Linked DNA regions of Homo sapiens. The protein of the gene in region 2 purifies or fractionates together with the protein of the main gene of each other region. This does not show direct contact. Each region holds a gene or a part of one and is shown on either strand. Other genes may lie near its edges. The genes, in order: ASPM, KLHL6, GCN1, BOP1, OBI1, MCCC1 and ALMS1.

Region 1 (4,842 bases), on a different chromosome or scaffold from region 2:
CTATTTTATTTTATTTTTTTCCTCTTTTTTTACTTGACATAATTGTGCATATTCATAAAGCACATAGTGATGTTTTGATACATATACTGTATAGCGATCACATTAGGACAATTAGCATATTCATCATCTCAAACATTCTTCTCTGGACTTTTTTTTTTTTTTTTTTTTTTGGAGACAGGGTCTTGCTCTGTCGCCCAGGCTAGAGTACAGTGGTGCAAACACAGCTCACTGCAGCCTCAATCTCCTAGGCTCAAGCCATCATCCCACCTCAGCCTCCCAAGTAGCTGAGACTACAGGCATGTACCACCACACTCAACTAATTTTTGTATTTTTTGTGGAGATAGGGTCTCACTAAATTCCCCAGGCTGGTCTCGAACTCCTGGGCTCTAGTCATCCTCCTGCCTTGGCCTCCTAAAGTGCTAGGAATACAGGTGTGAGCTACTACACCTTGCCAGATTCTGTTTTTTAAATTTGTATAGGACTATTTATCTTTGATGAGTTTTGGCAGTTTCTAATTTTCGAAGAATTGGTCCATTTCATCCAAGTTGTTGAATTTACCATATGTATATACAAAGTATATCTTTAATATCCTTTTGATGCCTGGGTAGTCTGTAGTGATATTCCCTTTTTCATTCCTGATATTGATAATTTGTATCTTCTCTTTTCTTCTTTGTCAGTCTTGCTAGAGTTTTAACTCTCTTGATCTTTTCAGTGGACAACCCTTTGGCTTCATTGGTCTCTGCTCAGTCTTTATTATTTCTTGTTTTGATTAATTTTGCTTTTCTGTCTATAGTTTCTTTAAGTATAATCTTGAGTAACTGATTTGAGTCCTTCCACTTTTAATGTAACACATTAATGGTATAAATTTTCTTCTAAATACAGGTTTAGCCACATACTACAAATTTTGATATGGTATTTTTTTTTCATTCAGTTCAAATAGTTTTTAATTTCTCTTGAGGCTTTTTCTATGATTTAAAGTTTCAGAATATGTTATTTACTTTCTAAATGTTTGGAGATTTTCCTATTATTTTTCTGTTAGTGACTTTTTCTTCAATTCCATTATGACCAGAGCACATACTGTGATTTCAATTCTTTCCTATTTGATAACCTTTAGTTTATGATCCACAATATGGTCTATCATGGTCAGAGGTTGGTATATCTGCAGGCCAAATTTGGCCTACCATGTGTTTTTATAAATAGAGTTTTTTAGAATATGGTCACAACTATTTGTTTATGTATTATTTGGGAGCTGCTTTTGTACTACAATAGCATAATTGACTTGTTGCAACAGAATTGGCCCACAAAGCTGAGATATTTGCCATCTTGGCTGTCATCTCCATTCTGCTATTGTGCCATACCAGTGAATTTTTATTTTGGTTAGTGTGTTTTTCGGTTCTACTATTCTCACTTGGTTCTTACTCATATCTTTGATGTCTTTACTGAGACTTTTTATCTTTCCATTAGTTTCAACTTGTTGTAGCATTTTTACTTTATCTGCTCTAAAGTCGTTGTCAGTTAATTCCAATTCCAGTATCTTTGTCATCTCATCATTGGTGTCTATTGATTATCTTTTCTTGTGAGAGTTGAAATTTTTCTGTTATGTTGTATGTCAAATAATTTTTAATTGCATTCTGGAAATTTAATGTTATGTTATCAGACTCTATGTTTTGTTTAAATCCTATGGAGAATGTTGATATTTTAGTTTTAGCAGCTAATTCACTTGATTGGGTTCAGGCCACCTGTTCTCATCAGCCTTCCATGAGCGTAGCTTCAGTGACAGTTCCTTTTTGAAAGCCTTTACAGTGAGTGATATTTGTATCATATCAGTTTCATTATGTAACACCCAGTAGCCAGTCTGGGATCTAGATTGTGATCTGTATCTTATTCAATTCTTAAAGTCTATAGCCTACTGTGGTCTAGATTCACATTGTGCACAACTTGGTGGTGAACCTAGAAATTCATAAACAACATTATCAGATTGCTTCCCTGAGCTCCCCAGTCTCTACCATCTCCCTGGTACCCTCTAGTTCCTCAGGGCTGCCTTGTTTCATCATCTGACCAGAAAACTGAAGATTGAGTTACACTGCTCTACTGCATTCTTTCCATGACTGCGCCCATATCTCAAGCAGAGAAACTCTTTTGTATGAGGAAAAACAAAGTATGGCACAGGTTATAGTTACTGGGAGAGATGAAGAATTGGGCTGTTAATGCACTCAACCTGCTGCAGATATCTGTGGTAGAGTAGAAAGAACATTTGATTTTGGTGTAATAATGTAGATCCTAAGATCAATTATTTTTATTTGCTGTGGGACTTTGCAAAAAGTTTTGTAACATTAGTGTTCCTTTCTTTAAGTGAAGAAACAATGCCAACTTAATGTATTTTTGTGAGAATTAAGTGAGAAAATTGTATGTAATGTGTTCCTTAGTAAAAGCTATTTATTTTTAAGAATTGTATGACAATGGTGAAAAAATTGCTATTGTAATAAGCAAAACTGTTAGGAGAGGAGATGATCATATCTTCCATGTTATATATCAACATTGATTAACATTTCAGTAATGGAGTAGTAATAGTAATGTAGAAAAAGTGATTATTAAAGTATAAAACAATCTGTACACACTGATTCTTCAATTTCTTAGTTTGAGGATTTTACATAGAAATATCTGTTGGGGGTGGGTGCTCAAAAGAAAAATAATATCTGAATTTCTGAGTACTATTACTGCTTTACTTTGCCCTAATTTAAAGCAAGTTAATACTTTATGTAGAGTTTATTGTTTTCAAAATACTTTTGTACAAATAAGTTTGACTGTTGTTGGATAAATATTTTGACAACTTGTGCATCTCTTCTTGGTAAGATAAAATGTATACAATCATTTCCTGTCAGGTTGAAGAGTATGAACAAAACCTCAGGTAACATTTAGTAGAGGAAGAAGACAATAAAACTTACAGGAAAAGGGTCAGGAAAAGGGATGTGCATGTTCTCCTTAAGCTTCCTCACCCATGGATAGGTATGCTTAGGCCAGTGATAGCTGCAAGCAAACTCGATACTGCTATAGGAGAGCGAGGTACCCAGTCCCTATATTACTCTACTTATATGCGAGAAAAAGTAAGATGTAGTAGAGAACAACCTCTCCATGCCACCCCCAATCTCAGCAATGTTTGGAGTGTTTGTACAAAGGAATGGTCTTATTGCTAAAACATCTAGAACTTGACTACCATTAGCCTGGGACCATTTTAGATACCAGCAACTGGAATTAGCTTGAGAGTTTGTAGCTCTTTTTGTTGAGCCAACATACAGTTGGATTAGCCATTGTAACCATGGCTTTTCAAAAGACAAAAGTTTTGTCATTTCTCAAGTCTTTCTAGAATTCTACTTTTAAGCCATGTATTTATAGTTCCTAAATTTGGGAAAAGGAAGTAATTTTATTCTTAATGAAAATAATGACTCTGAGAGTGATCTGGTTTATTTATTCCTAAATTCCTATATTTATATTATCAGGCCTGTAATGTGATAATGCAGGATCCTTCACATAAACAGTTTCTAGTCATTATAAGGTAGCTTAGAAACATTGAAGTAAGGGGACCATATAAGGCCCAGAAATAAACTCATAGGAAATTACTTAGAATCAATAGATAGCAAAGAATATTACTATAGTTTTATTTTGACTCTTTTGCTTGTAATATAACATAAACTTGCTTATGTTTCTTATGATTCTGGCATACAAATGCAGTATTTAAATATAATGAAGATTTGGATGGATTTCTGAATTGGCTACAGGTATATCAATGTAAAACCTAAACTAAAAACAAAAGAGACAAATATCTCACAAAAATAATTAGTTTTCTAATTCAATGTGTTTATTTTTAAGCAGAATGTTAGAAAAATTAGTATTTTGAAAAGTGTTAAATATAGAAAGCTATGCCTATTTTACTTTGTGTCCTTTCTTACCTTTTCCAGGGATATTGGAGAAGATATTCCACTAGACAAAGATTTCTGAAATTGAAATATTATTCAATCATCCTGCAATCTAGGATAAGAATGATAATTGCTGTTACATCTTATAAACGATATCTTTGGGCTACAGTTACAATTCAGAGGCATTGGCGTGCTTATTTAAGAAGAAAACAAGATCAACAAAGATATGAAATGCTAAAATCATCAACTCTTATAATCCAATCTATGTTCAGAAAATGGAAGCAACGTAAAATGCAATCACAAGTAAAAGCTACAGTAATATTGCAAAGAGCTTTTAGAGAATGGCATTTAAGAAAACAAGCTAAAGAAGAAAATTCTGCTATTATCATACAATCATGGTATAGAATGCATAAAGAATTACGGAAATATATTTATATTAGATCTTGTGTTGTTATCATTCAGAAAAGATTTCGGTGCTTTCAAGCCCAAAAGTTATATAAAAGAAGAAAAGAGTCCATACTAACCATCCAGAAGTACTACAAAGCATATCTGAAAGGAAAGATTGAGCGCACCAACTATTTGCAGAAACGAGCTGCAGCCATTCAATTACAAGCTGCTTTTAGGAGACTGAAAGCTCATAATTTATGTAGACAAATTAGAGCTGCTTGTGTTATTCAGTCATACTGGAGAATGAGACAAGACAGAGTTCGATTTTTAAACCTTAAGAAGACTATTATCAAATTTCAGGCACATGTAAGAAAACATCAACAACGACAGAAATATAAGAAGATGAAGAAAGCAGCTGTTATAATTCAGACTCATTTCCGAGCTTATATTTTTGCCATGAAAGTTCTAGCATCTTACCAGAAAACACGCTCTGCTGTCATTGTGCTGCAGTCTGCATATAGAGGGATGCAAGCCAGGAAAA
Region 2 (3,998 bases):
GGATTACAGGCACCTGCCACCGCGCCTGGCTAATTTTTGTAGTTTTAGTAGAGACGGGGTTTCACCATCTTGGCCAGGCTGGTCTTGAACGCCTGACCTTGTGATCTGCCCGCCTCGGCCTCCCGAAGTGCTGGGATTACAGGTGTGAGCCACTGGGCCCGGTCTTTTTTTTTTTAAATGATCATAAGATGGCCCATTTTGGACCGGAACTGTCATTGCCAGACAGAATTGTACCTTTAGCACATTCTGGTGCCCTGGCCTCTTAGTGTTCACCAGTTGTACTGCAATATAGACAAGATGTCTCTAGAGACTCAAACTACTGTTTTATTAAAAAAGTAAACACCTGAGCACAGCTGGCCTACACAGGAGCGACAGATTCTCCTTGATGGTACACTTTCTAGTTTTTACACAGTGATTTAGGTCCACGTTCCTGATACCCCATCCTCCTGAAGCCTTCGTTTTCAAGACTTTTAAAAAGCACTTCTACTTGGTTTTTTGATCAGTGTAGCTCAATTGTGACTTAAAGAACAGAATCTGTCCTTCACTGTAAGAGCTACAGCTTTCAAATGAGCTCACTGGAAATTCATTCTAATCCCCAAGCTGGAGAAACAGGTTAAGAGATCCTGTTTCATATGCTGTATTTAAAAAGCAACAATGATAACAACATAGTAACTGCGTTACCCAATGGACTTTATTTTCATCATATGATTTCAATTCTCTTTATAGAGTTTTATTTCATATCCGGTGTGGCTTGTTCTTTTCAGCAGTTTGGGAAGTTAGTTATTAGAGTTGATAGTGAATTGAATTTTCATTAAACAGTCACGGTTAGAAGAAGCTAATATTTGAAACAGATTTTAAAAACTTGAAAAATTACAGGTGAGATTTCTGTTTATGCCAGATTATTGAAGATAAATATAAATGTATGTTGGTGTGTGAAATGCTCTGTGCCTTAGAAGCGTGACAGTTCAGCTCTCTGCTGTGGAAAGTAACACAGGGCAATAGAAACATATTTGTGGAATTTTAGAACAAACTATTGCTGACTCATGAGCACTATAATAACCATCAGGAAGCTCCCAACTGAAGCAATGTAACAGTGTAATCTAGTTCAATTCAGCAAACATTCATGGAGTTCTTCATGTCTGTCAAGCCTTGAGGACACCCACGAATGGCAAATCTCCACGCTAGACACTCAATACAGGTAAATAGGCCACCAGTTAATATTCTTGTTTTTATTTTCTTCAAGTTAGCTAAAAATGAGATGCGTATGAAGTGAGGAGGCTGGATCCAAGTCTTGATTGCCTTTCAGGGGGTCAAGGTGGTAAGCTGTGCAGTGAAGTCAACCAGTGGCCATGGCTTACATGTTTGTCTCTTTGAGATCGCCACCAGAACCATTTGTGAACTGATTTGTGAAGGAAAAGTCAGTCTTACTCCAAAGACTATTGCAGGGAGGAACTTCCAGAGAGGAAATCCAATGACAATGGTACTGGCATACACAGGGAGCCTCCCTTCAAAAAGACAGCGCCCCTAGTCAGGGAGGGGATGGCGGTCCTTTGATAAGACCCATAGGCAAACTTCGAGCCCATCAGCAGGTCAACCCTATGCTGGGAAAGTGAGGATTTGGGATTTCTGTGCTATAAACCTGATTCTAAATGTAGGACCCAAGTTTCTGGACTACTTCAGAATACCTAAATGAATCATGGAAACACTCTTTATGATTTTTTACAACACCAGATATGCAGGTGAATTGTGGAAAATGTCATGTAGCTGACACTCAAGAAATAGGGATTCCTAATAATGGCATGGGTAGGGAACAGATACACCTGGTTAGAAGGTCTAGGGTTCTGTATATGAAGCTGCCAGTCTGTAGCTCTTCGAGAAAGAAAGTTCAAGTCATTTGGGGGAAACTTAAGAATAGTCATCAGGGTTTTAGCTTCTAGGCACCAGCCAAGGATGAGAACTTCTAAAATCTAAAATCCATTTCAAGAAATAAAGACGAACACATTTGCAGGAAGGTAACTGTTATAACCCACACCATCAGCAGGGGGAAAGCCAAGCTGAGAATAAACCCAGAGACAAAGAACCCTCGGACTCAGGCAGGACATGGCAGGATGTTCTGGCACAGCAGACTGGAGACTGAGGCAGGGCCTGTGAGTGGACAGAGCACCCCTGGCTGGGAAGAAGAAGATGGGGTAGGAGGAGGTCAGGTTCCAAGGATGCAGGTCTGGAAAATGATATCGGAGGCCCTGGAGTTTGTGAGCTTGGCTCTAGTCCCAAGAAGGGTGAGGGAGAATAAGGGTAAGGGAGTATTCTAGGCAAGGAACTAAGGAAGGAATCCCCTTCTTAGAGCAGAGGCACAAGTTAGAGCAGGCCCAGCATTTGGGCCAACTTACTGTGGGGCCTCTGAGCTGCTCAGCTGGGTCTCCTGTCCTAGAGGGAAGGTGGCCCAGAGTCTTTGGTGGAGCGGAATCTGTAGATGAGGTTAAGGGACTCCAGTTGCCAAGGTTGATCTGAAACAGGCAGGGAGCTAAGCTCATCAGAACACCAACAGATTCATGTTCTCGTCTTAGCTTTCATCTATTCTGGTCTCAATGGCTTCGGGAAACACACATATACACATACACCATGCCCTTGAACTCAAAGCAAACTACGCTCTCAGGGAAATACAAATATCACGTTCTTATAGCTGTAAAGTATAGCTTAGCTATTTATAGAAGACTATGAGGTACTGTTGTGAGTTATTTGCTTATCCTGTTTTATTCTGAAAAATGAAAGTGCTCAATAGAATTTTTAACGTTGGCAACACCATAAGGATTTCTTATGTTAAGTCCCAACTTGGGGTTGCAAAATCATTTTTTCCCTTAATACCTGGGTGTTGTATTAGATCTCATAATTTGACAAGTTAACCTTTTAGAAATCCACATATATCTCAAATCTGGCTACTGCAAAACCAGTTTTGACAGGTCAGATTTTCATATGTATAGGTATAAATAGCCAACACTCAGTGAACAAAATCCTTTAAGCATTTTGGTTACATAAAGTTGTATGTTTTAAGTGATCAAACTAAGAATATTGTTTATAGGTTTTAAAAACCAAACCAATAAAATTTTTATTTATTCAATAAAATATGCACAGAACAGATGCAAATGTGTTATATACAATCATGAAGTTTTTTTTTTTTTTTTTTGCTGTTTTTAGTTTATATAAATGAGTGGTGTCTGAATAGAAATTAATTTAGAAGGTGGAAATTTAAAACGTTTCATTTGGTTCATGGGACTTTAGATAAGTTCATAGGTTAAAATTCACCAGGTTTGATTTATAGAATGTCAAAGAGTAGACAGATTTTCCCTCCCTAAAGATGCATTGCCTCGCTGAGCAAGCTTTTACCAACCCATATGCAAACTGCGTGACTCTTCTCTTGCCTGGCCTCAGCTCTTCTTACAGGAGACCCCCTTCTAGGTTTTTGATTACAGGTCTGACCTTTTAGCCTGCGTCCACCATTGTTCCTGTGTTGTCTCTGAAGCCCTCCCTGGTCTGTGCTTCTCAAATTGGGGCACGTGTAACTTGGGGTATGAGACTTCCCTTTAATCACTGGAAACCTTGTTATCAATTTAGTTTGTTTTGGTTACAATGCAAGACTCCTGTGTATTTGAAAAGGAAAATCAGAGGCTTTAAAGAAATCTGGGGTTCCATGAATAGCTTCAGACCTTCCCCTCTGGGCATCCCCAGAGGTAGATGTTCTGCCTTAGGACTTCTTGGTGGAAACCCTTGGGAATCACAGACCCAGCTTCCTCACTGGTGGGGAATGTTCTGGAGTGATCTTGGGCCCTGGATCTGAGTGCCAGTGCACCAGCTGTGAGTCAAACGGAGTTTTGACCTTAACTTTGCTGCTGAGCCTTCCAATTTCCCCGCTGGGTCTAAGTGATAATCTCATGTCTGGGCAGTTTGGCCGGGGCCAGGCATCTGCCCAGCTTTTCTTAGTGCCTCCCCCTGCACCAGCT
Region 3 (4,842 bases), on a different chromosome or scaffold from region 2:
TGGAGTCGGCCTGGCTGGCCAGCTTCTTCAGGGACCTTCGGTTAACCTCGTTCAGCACCTCCAAACTGGCCACATCCAGGATCTTGGAGAGGGACTGTGGGGAAGGATGAGCAGGAGGAAACATAGTCAGAACATACGGCTGCCACGTTCTCCAATTGGAGAAAGACAAAAATGAATGTTAACCCCAGAACTAGAGACACTGAGGTGGACTCTGGCAAAATAAGGGAATCAGATGGATCCAGGGAAAGCCAATGAAAACACTCATCATGCTTTTCTATTTTTCCCTTTTTCTTAGAAACAGAGTCTCCCTATGTTGCCCGGCTGATCTTGAATTCCTGGGCTCCAGTGATCCTCCCACCTTGGCTTCCCAAAGTATTGGGATTACAGGCATGAGCCATCGCACCTGGCCCCATCATGCTTTTCATGAGACGAGGCAGTGGGAGTTGCAGCTTTTGGGCTTTTTTTTTTTTTGGAGATGGAGTTTCGTTCTTGTCGCCCATGCTGGAGTGCAATGGCACGATCTCAGCTCAACACAACCTCCGCCTCCCAGGTTCAAGCGATTCTCCTGCCTCAGCTTCCCGAGTAGCTGAGATTACAGACATAGCGCCACCACACCTGGCTAATTTTGTATTTTTAGTAGAGACGGGGTTTCTCCATGTTGGTCAGGCTGGTCTCGAACTCCTGACCTCCGGTGATCCGCCCACCTTGGCCTCCCAAAAGTGCTGAGATTACAGGCGTGAGCCACCGCGGCTGGCCAGCTTTTGGGCTTTCAAGGCTGCTGGGGGCTGGGGACTGAGTGAACACAACTCTGGGTTTCCTCTGGGCAGCTCTCCTGGGATCTGCTATGTCTGTTTGGGTGTCATGTGAGATTTTATTTGAAGAAAGGGCCCTGCTCGGAAAGAAGTCTGAAAACCATGGGAATGTATGTTTTCAGGTACTGGGCCAGTCACCCAAATCTTTTTTTTTTTTTTTTTTTTTTGAGACGGAGTCTCACTCTGTCGCCCAGGCTGGAGTGCAGTGGCATGATCTCAGCTCACTGCAACCTCCGTCTCCTGGGTTCACGCCATTCTCCTGCCTCAGCCTCCTGAGTAGCTGGGACAAAGCCGCCCACCACGCCTGGCTAATTTTTTTGTATTTTTAGTAGAGACGGGGTTTCACCGTGTTAGCCTTCATCTCCTGACTTGGTGATCTGCCCGCCTCAGCCTCCCAAAGTGCTGGGATTACAGGCGCGAGCCACCGCGCCCGGCCCCAGTCACCCAAATCTTAATCTGCTCCTGAAAGCTAGCACATCCGTGGTGGCAGAGAAGAGCCTGTGGTTTAAATATTTCCATGCTGAAGAAGAGCTGAAAGACAAATGCTCACAGCACATCCTGGTGAGGCCCCCCAGGCTCCCACCTGAAACACCTCTTCACCCTGCCGCATCTTGAGGAGGTTGACAATTGCCTGGTCGCTGTAGGCCCTGACCACGGTGTTCTTATCCTTGGTGTTGTCAAGAAGAGCCTTCAGGATGGGCTTGATGGCCTGGGGGTCCAGGGGAGGCAGTGGGTCCTTATTTGCCCACCAGATCATCTTCTCAGCCACCAGCCTGATGTCGCTGGATGGGTTCTGCAGACACTGTAAAAAGAACCACAAACAGGCTTTTGGATAGGCATGTCATCTATTCCTTGAAGCAGCCCAAATGCCCAGCCTCGACACTCTCCCTACAGCATGAACACTGACCCCCCCTGCTCCTGTGGGAGGGTCCCAGCATGACTCGACCCTGGTTTCCTGCACCCTCATCTCATGCCACTCTCCCCTTGCTCACTACTCTCAGCCCGCATGCGTTTTTACTTCCTCCAACATCCCAGGGCCTCGGGCCTCTGCCCTGGCTGGTCCCACAGCTTGGGCCGTGCTTGCCCCGGATCCTCTCTAGGTTAGTTCCTTCCCATCCTGCAGGTCTCAGCTCCCATGTCATCCTTTAGAGGTGCCCCCTGCCAATCTTATCTATATCAGGGTCCTCCCCATGGGCTCCAGGGATCCTGTCTGCCTTGTTCATCTCTACACCTTCAGGATAATGCCAAGTGAACAAGCGGGTGCAGGCTGATGTCATCACAGACGAGGCTCAATCGAATCAGGCCCCTCAGAAACTCCGTGGGTTCCCGGTGCTGCGGGGGGAGGCAGTCACTCTTGGGAACCTCATTACTCAAGGCAAGGTCCATGCACAGCACCACTGACACTGTTGCTGAGAGCTGGTTAGAGTACCAGGCATGGCCCCATCTCACTAAAATACACCCTGGCTCTGACTTCTGTGCACAGTAATGCTTCAGAAGCACGCCATATCACACGGGCCACAGGAGCCCTGCTGGCACATTCCTTGGCTTTCCTAACTAGGGCCTGGCACATAGCACAGTAACCACACCAAGAAGTGCTGGGCCAACTAGAAGAGGAAGGAGGGAAAAGAGAGGTATTAAGATGGGAACCCAGGTCTGTATCTAATTTTACAAAACTACGGTGCCTAGAAAGAATGCCTAAAATAGCGATTCCTAACTTGATTCAGAGTCACGGGTCAATTTGAGAATCTGACAAAAAGTTAGGCTTTATTGCAGTGTAAAGCACACACAGAAACCCCCTACATTCCATCCCTAAGTGTTCAGCGATCTCCTGGAGGCCGTCCACGGAGAACTAGCACACAACTAGTTGAGGGCGCACTGCTGGTGGTCTCTGATCCTAGGACCTCCTCACAAGCCAGGTGTTAGGGCTTAAACACATGCTTGGCCCCCACTCACCTTAACGAACAGGCTGGAAAGTTTGGCCGGCAACTGCCCTCCGCCTGTCTCGATGTGGTGTCTCATGAGAAAGCCCATGCCCCGGACCCCGCTCACCGCAATGGGGATCTGTGGAGAACAGACAGCGCTAGACGGGAGGCCCCCCACCCCTTCCCCAGAGCCAGGAAAACCCCAGTTCCTAGTAATCTCCAGGACCCTCCACTACATCACCACCACATCACCCCTTACACCATGACAGCTCTCAGGCAGGCTGCCCCGGCTGAGGCAGATGAGTACAGTCACTGGTTCCCAGGAACAGGGATCCAAGACCTGACCCAGAAGGGGCATCTAGATTCTTCAACCCAAATTCCTTGTTTAGATGATGAAACTGGGGCCCAAAGGGATCAAGTGCTGGTCCAAGGGCACAGCAAGTTACTGACAAAGGTAAAATTAGACCCAAGCTTCTTAAGCCCCAGTCTGGGGTCCACCCGCGCTGTGTCCACAAGGTGCTGCCTATGGGATGTGGCCTATGCCTATGGGATATGGCCCGAATGCCTTACCCTGTCCGCCGTGGCACTGCTCAGGATCATTTCCTGAACATCACTGCTATATCTGCCGGCACAAAGTCTGCCAGGAGCCACATTCACAGCCACGGAAAGTGCCAGGCTCCGCCCGTGCCGAACCATCCAGTCAATGCCGGACACGTCCGCTGGGTGGAAGGACACGACTGGGATCAACCGGTATTTTACAGCATGTCCCCAGCACCCATGAGGCCCATGGGCCCACCCCGCTGGAGACCAGTGTGCTGACCCAGAGCACAAGGAAAACTCCAGGCCACATTCACATGGACCTCCCTGCTATCTTGGCAGAAGCTCCCCAAAGTGGCACATTAAGGAAAGTAAGGAAAGCCTGCTCATGAACCACTCCGGGCTTACAGCTGTGTTCTTTGAGCAGAGACACTCAGGGCTACGGGACCACTGCAAATTCAGTATTGTTTGTTTGTTTTAGAGACAGGGCCTCGCTCTGTCGCCCAGGCTAGAGTGCAGGGGCGTGATCAAGGCTCACTGCAACCTTCAACTCTTGGGCTCAACTGATCCTCCCACCTCAGCCTCCTGAGTAGCTGGGACTACAGGTGAGTGCCACCACCCCTGGCCTGGATTTTGCTTTAACTGCTGGATTCCCAAGGAAAGGACAGTCCAGTTGCTAAAAGATCCTCTGAGGGAGGGAGGGAGATGCCCGTCGACTCTTCGCTAGGGCTGAGAGGCCCAGGTCCCTGAAGGGGAACTCTCCAGTGTACTTACCCAGCAAGCACTGCTGTAGAACGGCACTAAGCTCCTCTTCAGTCAAAAAGGCACACAGTTCCCCTAGGCACCCGGCTGAGGAGATGCGAGTGTTGTCCTGACAGGGAAGAGAAGGGAGTGAGGGGGTGCAGGGAACAACACCAGCTGTGTGGGAACCAAGGCAGGCAGCTCTAGAGCCCAGGATGGACAGCAACAAAGAAGGTGGAAAAGCCAACTCAGAGACTCAAGATCCAGTCCTTCCTGTAGGCACTCGTGCTCCCCTGCCAGATTGGGCTGCCACTGGTATGGAGTTAAACATTACACAGCCAGCACTTCACTTAATTATAGAAAACCCCAGTGTGTATGCATATGGTAATCATCCTTGTAATAGCAGTAATAACTGTATTTACATAGCATCTTTCTTCTTAGGAAGGCTGAATGTTTCATATTTATTATCTCAATTACTATCAACAGCCCTGTGAGGCAGGGAGGGGCGGGAGGGGCAGGAGGGGAGGCACCTGCCCCCAGCCACCAGGGAAGCCGGCTAGAGACGGCCACTCTGAGCTCCTTTCTCCCACAGAGTTTGTGTCATCTTGTGGCCAGAATGACTCCTGCTATCTCCCTACTGCATGAGTGCCCCACTGCCACCGAAATTACTTGGGTTCATCCTAGGAAGTCAAACTAAAGCCACTAATCAAGCCAAGGAAGATAAGGAAAGGCAAGCACTTCCTGTTCAAATCAGAGCCAGGTACGCGAGCGGCTCCGTGCTCCTCCCTGGCCAGCTAACTATGGAATACCAAGAGAGGATTTTAAGTTAT
Region 4 (4,842 bases), on a different chromosome or scaffold from region 2:
TCGCACCACTGCCCTCCAGCCTGAGTGACAGAGTGAGACCCTGTCTCAAACAAAAAAAAGCATTTATCCTTTGACCTAGAAATTCTCTTGGAATTTTCCCCAAGAATGGTGTGCACATGTGAGAAACAGCATGTTACTGTCAGGTCAACTGTAAGAGCAAAAGCCTGCAACTGCCCACCCACTGGAGCTGTTGAGGCCGAGCTGCCAGGCACTCTACGGGCACCAAGCACTGTACAAACCAGAGCCATGGCCTCCCTGACAGAACCATCCTGAGACAGCGCACGGCTGCCCCTTCTCTTAAGAAACCACCATTCAAAAACTCTGTGCGAGTTTGGATATGTCTAGAACATCCTGGAAAGAGACTTCAGCACTGGAAACAGTAGTTGCCTGGATGCAGCAACAGGAGCCAGGAGGGAAGGGTAGGAGACTCGTTCCCTGGCACACCCCTCAGGAGCACCTGAGCATCCAAAGGTGCCCTAGAACACCACGTGCAGCTGCTCACTGAATGCCACGTAATTCTACACAGTCCTTAGAAAGGAGGCAGGGTCGTGTGCATGTCAATGCTAAAGGCCTGAGGGCAGAAAGCCAGAGGGAAGCCTGTGGCCCGGCCCTGCAGCCAGAAGCACGCCCACCCTGGGTCCACCCAGGCAGGTCCGGAGCCCTTGGCAGGTCGCCAGGTCTCCACAGGGGCCGCCAGCAGCTGACCCCCAGCAGTCACCGGGCTCCCCGCTACAAGGGCCTCCCACTGTGGGGCTCTCCGCAGGACGCCCCGGGCCGGTCTGGGTTGGTTTGGGGCACACACTTGGAATCAGATTTATGGAGGAGGCTCTCTGAAGGTGACCCATCAGCCACATCGCTGCCAGGATGGCAGAGATGAACAAAAGCCGCAGCTCCCTCCCATGCCAGTCACACAGCCCCTTCTTCACAGCACCATCGGGGCCGGGTATACCCACCAAGGGCTAGGCGGCCTGGGGAGTGAGGCCCTCGCCCTGCCTGACTTCGTGTGTCCCTGAGGTGTCCGTGACATGACACATGCATGCTGCCTGATGCCCAGCCCCATCCCGCCACTGTTCCAGTCTGATGTGATGCTGTGGCTGGGATGTCCTTCAGATGCACGAGGCAGAGGCCACAGGGGCCACGTCTTGCCAACCACTGTGGAGGAAACAGCGACAGGAGGGAGTGGGGGGACAGGCAGAAGCACGTGGCAGAAGAGAAATTAGCAAAAACATCATCTCGTCCTTCAGGGGCTGCCAGGCAGACATTACCCTCACTTACCAAGTAACCCACCGAGGCCCATGAACCATCTGCAAGACCACACGAGTGGCCGTGGCCAGGACCACAGAATCCCAGGTGCGCCCACTGCAGGGCAAGGACACTTAGCAGCAGGAGAAGCTGCTGTGTCACTGTGGTGTGAATTCCCAGAACCAAGGGGCACTGATTCTAGAAGCCGCTCAACGGAAGGGTTCTTGGGTTGAGGACCCACAACCACTGGCAGGGGCATCGGGGGCAGAATCCTCCAGATGGCTGTGGCGGGCGAGGGTGTCTGGCAGAGCCCCTGGTGGCCCGGCCCCGTGGACCCACGATGCGAGTGGGAGGTGGCGGAGATACAGGCGTAAGGAGCCCTGGACTGCCTTCGGGATGACACAGAAACAGGCCTAACCTGAGGCCACTAACTGGGCATGACGGGGCCATCTTGGCGGCACTCTGGGAGGCCTCACGTGGCCACGCTCATGGAAGCCAAGAGAACATGCAGGAGGCAGCACTGGGCTGCCGGCTGAGTTTCCACCTGCAGGGCTGCACAATGGGAAAGGACTCCCACCATTCAAGAGGGGCGCGGAGGGCAGGCAGGAGGGAGTGGCCGCTCAGCAGGCCAAGGTGCCTGGGTGGCTTCTGATGAACAGGGGGGAAAAGGGAGGGGTTCCCACTAAGAAGCTGAAAGCACCCCCACCTCATCAATTCATTCTCCTGACCTGGAAGAATTTAAACCCAGTCATGAGGATCACACTTTAGAACTGAAAACACCCTGACAGGGCCCAAGGTGCCCCTCAGCTAAAGCACAGGACACGCGGGCAGATGCACGGGCGCCATGGCAGGGCAGGGCCTCAGCCCCTCAGCTAAAGCACAGGACACGCGGGCAGGTGCATGGGCGCCACGGCAGGGCAGGGCCTCGGCCCCTCAGCTAAAGCACAGGACACGCGGGCAGGTGCATGGGCGCCACGGCAGGGCAGGGCCTCGGCCCCTCAGCTAAAGCACAGGACACGCGGGCAGGTGCATGGGCGCCACGGCAGGGCAGGGCCTCGGCCTCCCAGCTAAAGCACAGGACACGCGGGCAGATGCACGGGCGCCATGGCAGGGCAGGGCCTCGGCCCCTCAGCTAAAGCACAGGACACGCGGGCAGGTGCATGAGCGCCACAACAGGGCAGGGCCTCAGGCAGGGACTTGGGCAGCCAGCAGCGTGGGGAACTCTGAGGACCGCCCCACCAGCCCGGCCGGCCTTGCCACCTCAGGCCCTGCTGGATGACGGAGCACACAGACCACAGACAGCGGTACTTTGGAAAACACCCTGCATGGGGCAGCCAGTTACGCGGTCACAGAAACCCGAGCAGGGCAATGGGCAGGACAAGCACACACTCAGCAGTGCAGAGGACCTGGTGCTCCAGGGGCCAGGAGACAAGCAGCGAGAAGAGAAGATGGCGCCTCCCTAGACTCCGCAGACACCTCTAGTACCTTTCAAGTACTTGGATATGTTATTATGCGAAAACATTGTTTTGGTTTTTGAGGCAGAGCCTCACTCTGTCACCCAGACTGGAGTGCAGTGGTGAGATCTCGGCTCACTGCAACCTCCGCCTCCCAGGTTCAAGTGATTCTAACGCCTCAGCCTCCCGAGTAGCTGGGATTACAGGCACGCGCCACCACGCCCAGCTAATTTTTATATTTTTAGTAGAGACAGGGTTTCACCATGTTAGCCAGGCTGGTCTTGAACTCCTGAGCTCAGGTGATCCATCCACCTTAGCCTCCCAAAGTGCTGGGATTACAGGCGTGAGCCACCACGCCCGCTGAAAGAATTTAATAAAAAAATCATTAACATGTAAATGTGTAAATCCTTAATTTAAAAAGGGACAGAAGACCCAGAAAGATGTACACCAGACCACTAACTGTGCTCACGGGTTAGGTGTGAGGGCCCTGAGTGGGAGCTTCCACCCTACTGAATGGTGCTGCTACAATATCTACATTATTTTCCAGGATGTTTTATCTCATAATTTTTTTTTGAAACAGGGTCTTGCTTGTCACCCAGGCTGGAGTGCAGTGGCTCTATCATAGCTCACTGTGACCTGGATTCCTGGGCTCAGGAGATCCTCCCACTTTGGCCTCTCGAGCTGCTGGGATTACAGGTATGAGCCACTGTGCCTGGCCCAGTATTGTATCATTTTAAAAACTCAAGAAGGGGTAACGTAGTTGTCCATAATCTTACAAACCACTGCCAACACAGCACATCATTTTTTCTCTGTGTATGTTAGTGGTATAATTAAAGCCTGAATTAAGTGTGATTTTAAATCTTTTCTTCCCAGCAAACAAGCCAACCCAACACAGCTAGCACACAATGAACAAGCCATGGTTCCTTGGCTTCTATCACGGGGACCTCTGCCAAGGCCGTAACTTCCAGAACACCGAAACTACTGGGAGAGTAAATCCTTACAAACGATTTCCAGAATGTTTAGAGTAACAAATGCTGGGCTGGGCGCGGTGGCTCACACCTGTAATCCCAGCACTTTGGGAGGCCAAGGCAGGCAGATCACTTGAGGTCAGGAGTTCGAGACCAGCCTGGCCAACATGGTGAAACCCCGTCACTACTAAACATACAAAAAAAAATTAGCCGAGCCTGGTAGTGGGCACCTGTAATCCCAGCTACTCAGGAGGCTGAGACAGGAGAATTGTTTGAACCCAGGAGGTGGAAGATGCAGTGAGCCAAGATCGCCCCACTGCACTCCAGCCTGGGCAACAGAGCAAGACTCTGTCTTAGAAAAAAAAAAAAAAAATAGGCCGGGCGTGGTGGCTCACCTGAGGTCAGGAAATCGAGACCAGCCTGGCCAACACGGCAAAACCCTGTCTCTACTAAAAGTACAAAAATTAGCCGGGCGTGATGGCATGTACCTGTAATCCCAGCTACTAGAGAGGCTGAGGCAGGAGAATTACTTGAACCCAGGGGATGGAGGTTGCAGTGAGCCAAGATCACACCACTGCACTCCAGCCTGGGCGACAGAGTGAGACTCTGTCTCAAAAAAATAAAAAATAAAAAAAAATAACAAATGCTGTGTTTTAGTTAAATTATGCTTTTCTCCTGTTGTTCTCAATAAGAGTAGGGTGCATCCTCCCCCACCATCGCTGCAACAGGTACAATGTTAAACCCTCTACCCGTCGGCTGCTCAGGCCCCTGAAGCCCTGTGGGGTCAGGCCCAGCTGGGTTCCGTTGGGGCCCCCATGCCGCCTGCTTGAGCCCTGCCATGCTGCTCAGCTCCCTCCTCAGCTGGGTCCTGCCACTGGATTCCAAGCAGTAAAATCCCCACCTCAAGGAAACCCAACCTGTTGCCAGGAGGGTTGCCCGAGCATCGTCTGACGGGGAAGGGCCTAGGCATGTGGATTTTCAGAGTTCCTGGGAACGGCACGCAACTGGGGATGGAAACCAGCGTCCTAGAGCCCAAGCGTGCCCCAGGTGCAGTGAAGGAGGGACGCCGGCCTTGGGGTTCTGAGGGACGGTGGAGAAGGCAGTACAGTGGCAGTCTCAGAAAGCCCAAGGCCACCTGCACATGGGGGACAGCCCTCGAGGGGGCTCCTCGCTCACCC
Region 5 (4,842 bases), on a different chromosome or scaffold from region 2:
GCTGCTTTCTGGCACTATCGCCTTGATTCTTTGACACCACATCCTCCTCACTGCCTTTGCTCCCTTTGCCATCTGCAGAAAGTGCTGTCTGGCAAATGGAATTCATAGCTTCTTTCTCTTCACTTGAATTTTTTAGCTGTGCAACTTGAGATTCTAGTTCCTCTATATACTTATCACTTCGTTCCAGGGCTTTCTTGAGGCGATTGGTTTCACGCTCATACTGTTCTACTTTGGACTGAAGAGCAGCAACTGCAAACCTTCCAAACCTACAAAGAATGGAAAGATAGTTAATCTTATAACTCAAGCTTTTTTCTTTTCAAGGTTTGAGAGTGCAAACTGTCCCAGGCTATTCTAATTTCACCTAACAGTGACATTTCAGACCACTCAATGAGTAGGGCAAATGCCAGATGTATATTTTCAAAAAATGGTTTCCCCACTTACATAATAATAAACATATGATAATAATAGCAAAACCTAATAGGATATTTTTGTGGTTAAATCAGATCTATGGTAGCAGAGAGGCAGAAATGTGCTGATGATTTCCCCTCGAAGAGCTGGCTGTATCAATTCAGCTCATATATGCATGAAGAGTTATCCCCTAAAACAATGGCAAAGATTTATGATAACATTTGAACAGTGGTCTACATCTTGAAATATTTACATTCAATCATTTTCCTATCATACAGCAGTGTTTTACAATACATTTCTTATATAATGTCACCTTGTCAAACATAAAATGCCAATTTGAAATTCAGAAATCTTAGCAGTCCCAGGAGGGGTGGTTTTAAATACTTATTTGGGCCCTTTCAATTATAGCCACCCTTGATCTGAAGCTTTTCTGTGGCTTTTCAGAGCACTGGCCTTTAATTTATGTCAGCACTACTTATTTTTGGCATTTTACAGCTGTGTGGGACATCTATCTCATTTCTTTCAACTTTGAAATATGAAGTCAGTGCTTGTGATTCCAATATACTAGGCAAAAAAAAAAATTTTTTTGTACACTTTCTGAAAGAGAACATTTTGGAGAGTGACTGAAAAAGAATTCCCTTATTCACAAAAAGTCTACTCCTTTTACACCGGGATTATCTTGCTGTTATTTCCACCAAGAATGAGTACTGTGTTAAGCTCAGGAAACAATTTTTGAGTACCTAGTATAGGTTAGGTGGTATATTTGGGGCTGGGAACACAAAAGATAAAAAAGACTGTCTAGCTCCAAGGGACATAAAATATCTACCTTAAATTCAATCTTATCACCAAAAATAAATTCTATCTTTCAGGAAACTTATGAGCCAATAAATAACATAATCCCGTGAAAAATACCTTATCTCCTCCAAAATTCTTTTCAAAGCCTATTCTTAATCATCTTTTTGATGATTTATATATTGGCCCATTTCTAAGAATTAAGGGATTGTCTGTTTGGAGGAAGCTATGAGAAGGTGACTTTCAAAAATTATTTTTATCTTTGGGTTTATCTTTTTCTTCCTTTTTTCCCCTAATTTGAAAAATAATTACAATTAAGAACATGTATTTAGTATTGAAAAAAAAAACTACAAAAAAAGCAGAAGCCAATAGCAATTGCCCCTCTTAGAATCAACCACAACATGTTTTCAACTCCCACTTAATGCCCATCACCTCCTAAACCACTAGCCCAATTCATTCCCCATCTCAACCCCTACATAATCCCTGCACTCTTATCACTGAAGGAAAAAGCAGAGGCAAAGGTAAATATAGAATCATAAAATCTCAAGATTAGAAAGGGCTTTAAAAGACATGATTGCTGAATATTGATTTACTCACTGCAATTAACTGAACCCCCAGAGAGAGCACGCTCCCTTCAACTTCTAAAAAAACACAGCAAAAACCACAGGTATAACAAAAACAAAAGCAACTATAATAACAAGCCTCCCCATTTTAAAGACAAAGTTTACTACTGTATTTGGTTAAATGAATGATGGGAATTTTTCTTCTTTGTTAAAAATGTTTTGGCTTATAAATGTAGTACTTCACAGAGTTGTAGTTCTGCAAGAGAACTTTTAAAAAGTGGGCAAAGACCTTTCAGTACATTAAGTACAAATGTTTGTTAGTTCTTGATTGTAACTACTCTGGCATAATCAAATAACCCACATTTTTAAATGGAAAAACTGTAGTATGTTTATTTAATGCCAATAAGCAAAAGTGACAGCCTTACATTTGCTTATCAAGATAAATTTCTTCAAGTAAAATTTTTTATAATAAAGGTATCTCCTCAGATAAAAAAATCAAATGACTTAAAATCAAATAATGCTACTACATAGTAAGTCAGTTGCTACCAAAGGATATCTTTGGGAACTTAGAGGCCTACACACAGAAAGACTACTCAAAAATAAAGAATGCTTCCCAAAATATTACCAGCTTCTTGTTCCAGGGTTTTAGCTTGGAATTTCAAATATAGTATCATCTTAAGATACTGTATTTGCCTCTCTCTCTCTATATATTTTTTTTTTTTAGAAATTATGTTTTTAAAAGAAGTAACATATGGTTTGGAGTTGAAGTCAATGAGAGCCCTAAACATAATTTTTGTGTTATTTCAGAGAGAAGTAACAAAGGCCAGTAGCAGATCACATATGAGAGGCACAAGCAAGCAGAAGTCACTGATGGAGTTAGGCTGTTTTCTAAAAGGCCACTGCCCCCAATTTCCTTAAGTTTCCTTTCAATACTCTATAAATCTATAATACTTTCAGTGATCAGGCCCTTCTCCCATGCTAATAAGGGACCTGTGCTGGTTGGCAGACTGACAGAAATGTATACTAAAAGCCATGCAACTGATCAATTAATCAATTCATGTAATTTATTTGCTTTCTTTCTCCCACGTTAGAATAGAAGCTCAAGGAGAGCAGGTAGTTTGTCTTATATTCACTGCCAGATTCCTAGAACAATTCCTGGTATACGGCACTTGCCTGTTGTGTATTTCTTGAATAAAAGTCATTCTCTTACTTTAAGATACACTAGTGCCTTACATTGAGACAGGGTTGACACCACAGGATAAGCTAAAGGTCCTTGGCCTTCTTTTTACATGTTAAGTATTATGACAGTCACTGTATTACTAAAGTAAACATGTTTTGTTTACTACATTTGACTGTTTACTTTATTTCACTGACACCCAGGAAAGCAACAGAGACTGACATATGTACAGTACAGCCTTTTTTGCTACAGGCTTGACATTCTATACTGCTCCACCCCAAAAAACTTCACCTTAGTAAGACTGCAAATAGATGAGACTTTTGACATGTGTCAGGAAATTTTCAGCTTATCCAAGATAACTATATTAAATTTGGCAAAGGGCAATTTACCTTATTATAGAGAAATAACAATTAGGGATAAGTATCTGATGCTATACTTCCATAGAAGAAGGACATGAGCTTATTTATCTTTGGGTTTTAATACTTTTGTATTCACACTAATTCTAGATATTTGGAGTATACAACACTAAATGAAGCTATGCCAAGGCAAGCCGGAGGGATTTCTAATATCATTTACCATACTTCCTCCTTTTCTTGAGTAAATTTCAAAATGGAGTATTTTTATAAACATTCCATTAGAGACCAAAAGGCTTTGATTTTCAAAGTAGCAGTGATGGCCAAAGGCTTCATTGTGCCAGAAAAAACACTGCAGAGCAGTTTGGGAGCTACAATTGATATCGGAACTGTATTCTGCCAGAATCTAACAGAAGCTTAAAGGATTTTTCAGCTTGCAATATTAACTGATACATACATTCTGGATGAGAGAGAAAAGGATGCCAGTTCCCCTTGTCCAAATAGCTCTAAGAGATACAAGATCATTTCTGTCCCTAGTAAAAGAGAAATGGAAGTCCTATTGGTATGACCTTTGAGGTGGTATAACTAAACTAAAGAGCATCTCTAACAACAAAAAGTTCCTAAGACCATATTTTCTCATAGTCTATCACACAGAAAAACAGGACGTGTTTGAAGAAAACAAATGTGGTAAAAGAATACCACACCTGAGTACCAAAAAACTAATAAGCTCTAGTGCTACGCTACTATCCTTGAGCAATTCACTTTGCCTTTCTGGTTCTCAATGGCAATTCCAACAAAATGGGTAAATGCAGCAAGCCCAGTGGGTGGCCAAGACTGCCAAAATTCAGAAATGCCTTCTTGAGGAGGAACAAGGGGGACATTGGGGAAGTCAGTCCACTTGCCTCATCAAACTTTGACTTTATATGTTTCCCTCACTTGGTAGCTGAGGTAATGAAACAAAGCGAAAGCTATCTTTGGACCTGGACCAGCTTTTGTGGTGTGGCCTATCTGACAGGTTTTCAGTGTTGATATCCTTGCTTTATATGGTTCCAATATGCACAAATTTCAGTTACCATGGTTTAATTTACAAGTCACCCAACAATATGGTTCAAATTTCAGTTACCACACCATTATTAATGAGTAACTGCATGAAGTAAAACCTTCACTTCTAGCTTTTCAGTTCAAAAAACACTACATAAATAATAGACGTGCTTCATGATCAGTGACCCATCAAGTCACTTCTTTCAAGGTCAGTCAGTGATTAGTCACTGTGCATTTACCTGTTTTTCAGTTAACATACAGACAGCAAAGTGTGCAGCTGGGCTGCTCCTTGTCTCCCAGTAAAAAACCCGCATGACATTTCACAAAAACAGTTAATAAAACGACAGAACTGGTCAACAAAGATGAAGGTGTAACAAAGAAATAAACAATGATAACATTGGAAGTGAAATTGAAATCAAATGTAAATGTAGTTATGGAAGAAATCACTGACTGTGGGAATATTACAACAATGTCAGTCCATTCAAGAAATTCTAGATATGCCAGAAGC
Region 6 (3,731 bases), 470 kb from region 2:
TGGTCGTGAACTCCTGACCTCAAATGATCCGCCTGCCTCTGCCTCCCAAAGTGCTGGGATTACAGGCATGAGCCACTGCGCCCAGCCTTTCAAAAGTATTGATCCTTGGGCTCTACTCCTGGAGATTGCAATTCAATGGGTCTGGGGAAGAATTTTTTCAAATCTCCCCAGGTGACTGTACACATGCTCCTTGACTTACGATGGGGTCAGGTCCAGATAAATCCAATGTAAGCTGAGGAGCATATTCAACGTGTATGGTTTTGCACCATTGTCAAGCTGAAAAATCCTTAATTGAACCATTGTAAGTTGAGGACTGTCTGCAATATTCAGCCAGGGCTAAGAATCACTGACCTACCATTTGAACCATCTAAAAACCTAAACAGCTAATTTAATTTGATTGCGGTTTTCACTTTGAAACTGATGCCTGGCATCCTTGGTTCGGCCTTAGAACCAAGATAATACCAACAGTTAACATTAGAAAATACCAACAGTTAACATTCCAGAAACACCAACAGTTAACATTCAGTTGGATTATCTTAGAAAATACCAACAGTTAACATTCAGTTGGATTATCGCCTGATTCCAAGCTATTGATAATTTCATTAATTTCAGAATCAGAAATGACAGGTGCAATTTCACAAAGTTAAAGTAAAACTCTTTTCTACAAGAAGGATAGTTTGGTTTTGTTTCCTACAATTAATGCTTCGTCAATCATGGCTTTTCATATTTAAGGTGGTATTAACTTACAAAATAAGGCAAAAGAACCATTAGGTATGATTGCTCCCAAAGTCCTCATAGCAAATGAACTCATGATTTCCTTACCTCCATCTTCATGGCGATCATAACCATGAGGGAATCTCCCGCTTTCACTTTGTCTCCAGCTTTGACAAACACCTTGAGATTCAGTGTGACAGGTTAATATTTGAAAACACAGAGGTCCTAGATATGTTCATCTGCTTCATTATAGTAACCATTTTACTGTCTATATATACTCATAACATCATGTTGCAAACCATGAATATAAACAATAAAACATAAATAAAAAGAAAAAAAACAACACAGAGGTCCTTTGTGGTCCACAGATTTGGTATATAAACTTACAGAGCAGAAGTAGAGCCCATGTGGTTGTGCCATCTGCCAAATGCACTGGTCAAATCAGAGGCCTACAGCCCAAATATACAGGTCAAATCTGAGACCTACAGCCCAAATGCACTGGTCAAATCAGAGGCCTACAGGTCAAATGCACTGGTCAAATCAGAGGCTTACAGCCCAAATGTACAGGTCAAATCTGAGACCTACAGCCCAAATGTACTGGTCAAATCAGAGGCCTACAGCCCAAATGTACTGGTCAAATCAGAGGCCTACAGCCCAAATGTACTGGTCAAATCAGAGGCCTACAGCCCAAATGCACTGGTCAAATCAGAGGCCTACAGGTCAAATGTACTGGTCAAATCAGAGGCCTACAGCCCAAATGTACTGGTCAAATCAGAGGCCTACAGGTCAAATGCACTGGTCAAATCAGAGGCCTACAGCCCAAATGCACTGGTCAAATCAGAGGCCTACAGGTCAAATGCACTGGTCAAATCAGAGGCCTACAGCCCAAATGCACTGGTCAAATCAGAGGCCTACAGCCCAAATGTACTCGTCAAATAAGAGGCCTACAGGTCAAATGCACTGGTCAAATCAGAGGCCTACAGCCCAAATGCACTGGTCAAATCAGAGGCCTACAGCCCAAATGCACTGGTCAAATCAGAGGCCTACAGGTCAAATGCACTGGTCAAATCAGAGGCCTACAGCCCAAATGCACTGGTCAAATCAGAGGCCTACAGGTCAAATGTACTGGTCAAATCAGAGGCCTACAGCCCAAATGTACTGGTCAAATCAGAGGCCTACAGGTCAAATGCACTGGTCAAATCAGAGGCCTACAGCCCAAATGCACTGGTCAAATCAGAGGCCTACAGGTCAAATGCACTGGTCAAATCAGAGGCCTACAGCCCAAATGTACTGGTCAAATCAGAGGCCTACAGGTCAAATGCACTGGTCAAATCAGAGGCCTACAGCCCAAATGCACTAGTCAAATGAGAGCCCTACAGGTCAATCTGGCATTGCTGGCACTGTCGTCCATGGGTAGCACTGCTTAGTCCCCTGTCCCCACCCACAAAACCACTTAGTTTTACTTGAATCACATGAATATACTCCATGTATTTTGAAATCCTTTCATTTTTTTCAAGAATGTAGAAACAAGACACATTGCCAGTAGGGAAGGACTAATATACTTAAATGTCTTCCCCAGAGAGGGAAGAGGGATGAGGGTCTTGACTGGTTTTCTTGTTTTGGGGTTGTCTAGGGCTAAGTATAGTAAGTGTGTTTGAAGTCTTCAGAGCCCTGTGTAGTAAATGTGAAGACAATCTTCATGCAACAGAATCAAACTTATTAGCAACCCCAGAAAGAGATTTCTATTTTCTTTTGTATACATATAAATGGACTCATAGATCCTATATGGTCTCACTTTCGTTTTGGTTAACATGGCTACTAAGTGGGAGACTAACAGAGTTGTGCAGAGATGCCTGCACTATGAGAGGCCTGTGGGAACTGAAATCAAATGAGCTAAAGGCAGATCCAGGTCTCCTAGCTCATACCCACTTGGGGTAAATATTTCCAAACGAGAATAGTGGCTGAAATCACCCACACTATTTAAGTAGTTATTTTCTTCTTCTTCTTTTTTTGTTCCAAGCATATACAGTTGAGTTTTTATGATTTAAGTGTATTTGAGGAGACTCTACTGTATTCAAGTATATAAAAGGAGACTACGGATACTGATCTATCACCATTTGATGTTATATCAGTATGTGCTAGGGTCTAAATGTCTATATCCCTCCAGAATTCATTTGTTAAAATCCTGACCTCCAGGATGATGGTATTTGGAGGTGGGGCCTTTAGCAGGTGATTAGGTCATGAGGGATCTGGCCTCATGAAAGAGATTAGTGCCCTTATGAAAGAGGCCTGAAGAGAGGTCCCTTGTCCCTTCCACCACGTGAGGACACAGAGAAAAAATGGCTGTTTATGAAATCGGTAAGTAGACTCTCACCAGACACTTAATCTGCTGGTGATTTGATGGATTTCCCAGCCTCTAGAATCGTGAGAAATAAATTTCTATTGTTTAAAAGCCACCCAGTCTATGGTATTCTGTTCTAGCAGCCTGAACTGACTCAGACAGTATGGACTGCAACTGTGAATTATATACTGCATTCAACACCAAACCGTACTGTTCTTCACCAATACCAGCCTTTTACATTAACGCAGATGCAACTACGTACACTAAAAGAAAATGTCATTATTTCATGAAAAATTTGCTGCTATTAAATTTAACATTCAAAACCAGCTTTTTTGAATAATGCTTAATGAATGCTCAGTTTTAATCATAAAAAGACAATTTAGATTATTTGTACTTTGATGCAAATGCCTGCCTTCAAAAACAGCAGTCTTTTTCATAAATTAGGTAAATGGGTATTTTCAGTGAGGACTGTAATAAACAATTTGAATCTGTAATAGATCCTCTTGTTTTTGTGAAGTGGATGCTTTCCAATGAGCAAGGTTTAGAAAGGGAAAAGGACATAAATGACAAGTTTAACAAAGCCACGTATTAAAACTTACTGAACATCATTCTACAGATGTCATGTGATTACCTTTTCAATGGTTCCAGTCATAGGAGCTAAGGGGCCGCCCTGAGT
Region 7 (3,633 bases), on a different chromosome or scaffold from region 2:
TCCTGAGTAGCTGAGATTACAGGCATCTGCCACCATGCCCACCTAATTTTTTTTTTTTTTTTTTGGTGTGTGTGGTTTTAGTAGAGACGGGCTTTCACCATCTTGGCCAGGCTGCTCTTGAACTCCTGACCTCGTGATCCACCCACCTCAGCCTCCCAAAGTGCTGGGTTTACAGGCTTCAGCCACTGCACCCAGCGCTCCTATCTATTCTTAAGACCCAACTTACCTATAATTTCCTCTCTGGAGCCTTTCCGAACCTCCTTCCACCAGACCAAGTTTCTTCTCCTCTAGAACATTTTATAGGTGTGACCATTTTAGTACTTTTCCATAATTTCACTTGTGTTTCCAAACACAATAGTAACGCTGTTCATTATCTTATATTGAAACAGTCCATTTTTGCATGTAGAGCAGAAAGTAGAAGTTCAGCTCTCCTTCATTTATCTCACTCCTTTCCCCCCTTTATCCCACTTCTTTCCACATGTAAGCACTATTAGGATTTTATTGTGTTTGTATTTATCTCCCCTTCCAGATTGTGAGCCCCGGGCTAGGGTTTTCTGTGCTGGAGTATCTAACGGGGCCCAGGGCCTTTCTGAGAGGGATGAGCTCCTGGAGAGTGGGAGGTATAGGGAGGGATGATGAGAGGAGATCTCATGACTCTGCACCCTGGTAACCTCCCCGATTTCTGTCCTTTCACTGGTGCCATTTCTAAGGATTTATGAGCAGCTTCCAGAAGTACAGAAAAAGAGAGAAGAAGAGAAGAGAAAATCAGAATATAAGTCATACCGGCTGCGAGCCCAGCTATATAAAAAGGTCAGTGGGTCCTCTGTCTAGAGTGGGATGGATCAGGTTTATTGGCGGAAAGAGAAATGGAGAAAACACGTTGCCTGTTGAGTGTGAAGTCAGAATGAACCGCATTTGAGGAATGAACTTAGAATGCACTGGACCAGTGTTGAAATTTGGAAGAAGGCATCTGTAATTAGACTTCAAATCAGGTTTAACTCCCCATCCATAATGGTGTAAGGCCCTTTCCATGCATTCGTTTGCAGTGAAACCAAATTTCACACACAGGAGTTCATTGACATATCATGGTAGAAATACCAGAATTATCAGGTTTCCATTCCAGAGTCCCAGGTGGTGATTTCATGCCCCTCATTGGTGAGTCAGATACCTTTAGAACTGTTAAACTGGAAAATGTGTAACTGCGGCATAAGAGTTGTCCACTTGGATGGTCAGAGGCCTCCAACTTGTCACCATGCCCTGCCCATTGTCCCAGTAGAGTCAGCGTTGCTGCAAGTCCAAGAACCTCACGGGGCAGGGTTGGTGTTACCAGTTAATTCTCTGAGAAACCAGACCGGCTCCTATGCCTGAAGGGCCATATACTTCACTGTAGTTGTTTCCTTCTCACCCTGTCAGTCACCAGACTGATGTGGGATGGGAGCTGCTTCTGGAGCAGGCCCCAGAACCCAGGCGGGTGCCTCAGGTGGAGGCCCCAGGCACCACACCACCTGTCTGGTGTGTCAGCATCGCAGGGCCAGGCCTCTCCTTATGCTACTGTATGTGGGAACTGATGGATTATCTGTGTCTCTATAGAAATAATAGATATTGATTACAGATCCTCTTTCCTGAACCTTTCGTGAAGTATTTTTTATATGACGACCATAGTTTCTGAAGCAGAGTAAAATGAACAAGATTTGAATAGGACCACACTGATTCTCCTTGGTGACATGGATGCAGGGAGGAGAGGCATCTGCCTCTGATGGCAGTAATATCTAACTTCTTTCCTGCCTTTCTTTTCTTCTACAGAGAGTGACCAATCAACTTCTGGGGAGAAAAGTTCCCTGGGACTGACACAAGTTTATTTTCCTCAGAGCCTTGGAATTCTATTTTATGAACCTAGAGAAGCAGAATCCTTACTTTTGTGAGTCTGGTTGAATAAAGCTTATTCTTTGTCCATGTGTATTTTAGAAATAGTAACTTCTAAAGAGTCTGGAACAAAGTGGTGATTAAAATTCCTAATGGTTTGGGAGCAATACTTTCTGCATAGTGGCCTTGTCCAATGGCCTGTGTGTTACAATGATATGATCATTTCTCAAGAATAAGTCCCTTTTTGTATGTGTTTTTATACTTTTAGAAAATAAAAACTTTAGATTAACTCATAGTAAACAATTCTTTCCCATCTGGAGAGATGCAAGGAGCTATGCATTGTCTCCACCGAGGTGTCTAAATGCATCAGTTGAGGGAAATGGGCTCTTAGAAGGAAATGTAGCCTGTATCTTTAGAAACACAATGTGCTGTAGTGGGAGCACTGTTGTGGGCTTTGAGGAGACGGTGTCTGGTTAGATGCCCACCGGGTGCACCCAGAGACTGCAGCAGGAGAGGTGTCTTGGGTCCAGAGCCTCCTTTCAGCCCCAGTCCAGCTCCCCCAGGGACTCTCTGTGTAGGCTGGGGAGAAAGGCCACTAGCCTTGGCTGATGGATCTTCCTCCACCCACACTCGGTTTTGGGATTAAAGCCTCAGACCATTTATCATTACACGTGAAACCAACACTTACAACATAAAGGACAACTTGTGAAAAAGATGAGTCAATGAATGAGATAAAGCATTTAACCCAGTAACTGGATCAGAATGTAACAGGATTTTTTTTTTTTTTTTCATGTGGCCTGGAATTATAGCTAAGGCCCAAAGTAATGGAGGAAGGTTTTCAACAGCCTCACTCTAAGTTCAGCAAACCCCAGTACAAAGATTGGCAAGGGCCAGTCATCCACCGAGAAGGCTTCCTGGGAGGCTGGATCCAAGAGCAGGCCCTGCCCTCAAGCACGGTTCAGAGCTTTCAGATCCTGCCCCCTGGGCTCCCTGCCATGAAGAGGACACTGGGAAAAGAACCCATGGTGCATGAGGTCAACTCATAGTTCTTCCCTTTCTTGCTGGGCAAGGTAATGAAGCACTTTTGGCCAATTTACCTGTAAAATGAGAGGGTTAATACCTCTAAGCCCCTCTTTACATAAACTCTAAAACAATGTGACTATTTCCACCTCTTGTGAGACATTATTATTCAGAATAGAAACAAATTGTTGTCTCAAACCTGGGTCTGCAAAGAACCCAGGGCAAGATGGAGTCTGATGAGGAATGATGAGCATGATTCTCTCTAGGCCCAAGGCTGTGGCATCCAGACACCTTCCAAGGGCAGTTAGATTTGGTCCTGGGAGGCCCAGGTGGCAGGTGCCAGCCAGCTCCTCCCATTCCCAGCCAGGGCGCACCTCCTCAGGAGAACTTGTTAGCATCTTCACTGGGTTCCTTTAAACCAGAAATCTATGGACTTGCTTTCACATTATAACAGTATTCCCCCAGGCCACCAGCCATGGGCATGTTCCCAAGGCAATGTCAACGCACAGAAGGTGGCAGGAAGGGGACATATTGTGGAGAGTCTCACAACTGCAGTCTACCTGCTTGTCCTATGCCAGGAGACCTTTGGCTGAGTGCAGGCTGAAGAATCCAGGCATCAACCTCACAATCCCAGGGACTCCCTCAGTGTCCGTTCTGCCCCAGAGCTCAGGATGGCTTCCCACACTGCACAGTTCTGTGGGGGCTGAGAGCACCTGCTACAAACCACAGAGTCACTACCTCGTGCAGCCA

What was found.
Region 1: the proteins of KLHL6 (region 2) and ASPM purify together in Homo sapiens (affinity purification with mass spectrometry, with the first as the bait; one large-scale study listed by BioGRID). This does not show direct contact.
Region 3: the proteins of KLHL6 (region 2) and GCN1 purify together in Homo sapiens (affinity purification with mass spectrometry, with the first as the bait; one large-scale study listed by BioGRID). This does not show direct contact.
Region 4: the proteins of KLHL6 (region 2) and BOP1 purify together in Homo sapiens (affinity purification with mass spectrometry, with the first as the bait; one large-scale study listed by BioGRID). This does not show direct contact.
Region 5: the proteins of KLHL6 (region 2) and OBI1 purify together in Homo sapiens (affinity purification with mass spectrometry, with the first as the bait; one large-scale study listed by BioGRID). This does not show direct contact.
Region 6: the proteins of KLHL6 (region 2) and MCCC1 purify together in Homo sapiens (affinity purification with mass spectrometry, with the first as the bait; one large-scale study listed by BioGRID). This does not show direct contact.
Region 7: the proteins of KLHL6 (region 2) and ALMS1 purify together in Homo sapiens (affinity purification with mass spectrometry, with the first as the bait; one large-scale study listed by BioGRID). This does not show direct contact.

What each region holds. Positions count from the first base shown.
Region 1 is NC_000001.11:197,104,300-197,109,141, reverse strand, and holds part of ASPM (abnormal spindle-like microcephaly-associated protein), read left to right. Parts: intron 1-3,956; coding exon 3,957-4,842. UniProt on the Homo sapiens protein: Involved in mitotic spindle regulation and coordination of mitotic processes.
Region 2 is NC_000003.12:183,486,691-183,490,688, reverse strand, and holds the end of KLHL6 (kelch-like protein 6), read left to right. Parts: 3' UTR 1-3,138; downstream 3,139-3,998. UniProt on the Homo sapiens protein: Involved in B-lymphocyte antigen receptor signaling and germinal center formation.
Region 3 is NC_000012.12:120,127,881-120,132,722, forward strand, and holds part of GCN1 (stalled ribosome sensor GCN1), read right to left. Parts: intron 4,143-4,842; coding exon 4,046-4,142; intron 3,454-4,045; coding exon 3,305-3,453; intron 2,874-3,304; coding exon 2,766-2,873; intron 1,615-2,765; coding exon 1,396-1,614; intron 95-1,395; coding exon 1-94. UniProt on the Homo sapiens protein: Ribosome collision sensor that plays a key role in the RNF14-RNF25 translation quality control pathway, a pathway that takes place when a ribosome has stalled during translation, and which promotes ubiquitination and degradation of translation factors on stalled ribosomes.
Region 4 is NC_000008.11:144,284,251-144,289,092, forward strand, and holds part of BOP1 (ribosome biogenesis protein BOP1), read right to left. Parts: intron 1-4,842. UniProt on the Homo sapiens protein: Component of the PeBoW complex, which is required for maturation of 28S and 5.8S ribosomal RNAs and formation of the 60S ribosome.
Region 5 is NC_000013.11:78,616,857-78,621,698, forward strand, and holds part of OBI1 (ORC ubiquitin ligase 1), read right to left. Parts: intron 470-4,842; exon of another isoform or gene 267-469; coding exon 1-266. UniProt on the Homo sapiens protein: E3 ubiquitin ligase essential for DNA replication origin activation during S phase.
Region 6 is NC_000003.12:183,016,444-183,020,174, forward strand, and holds part of MCCC1 (methylcrotonoyl-CoA carboxylase subunit alpha, mitochondrial isoform 1 precursor), read right to left. Parts: coding exon 3,687-3,731; intron 895-3,686; coding exon 823-894; intron 1-822.
Region 7 is NC_000002.12:73,607,765-73,611,397, forward strand, and holds the end of ALMS1 (centrosome-associated protein ALMS1), read left to right. Parts: intron 1-710; coding exon 711-810; intron 811-1,803; coding exon 1,804-1,848; 3' UTR 1,849-2,152; downstream 2,153-3,633. UniProt on the Homo sapiens protein: Involved in PCM1-dependent intracellular transport. Required, directly or indirectly, for the localization of NCAPD2 to the proximal ends of centrioles.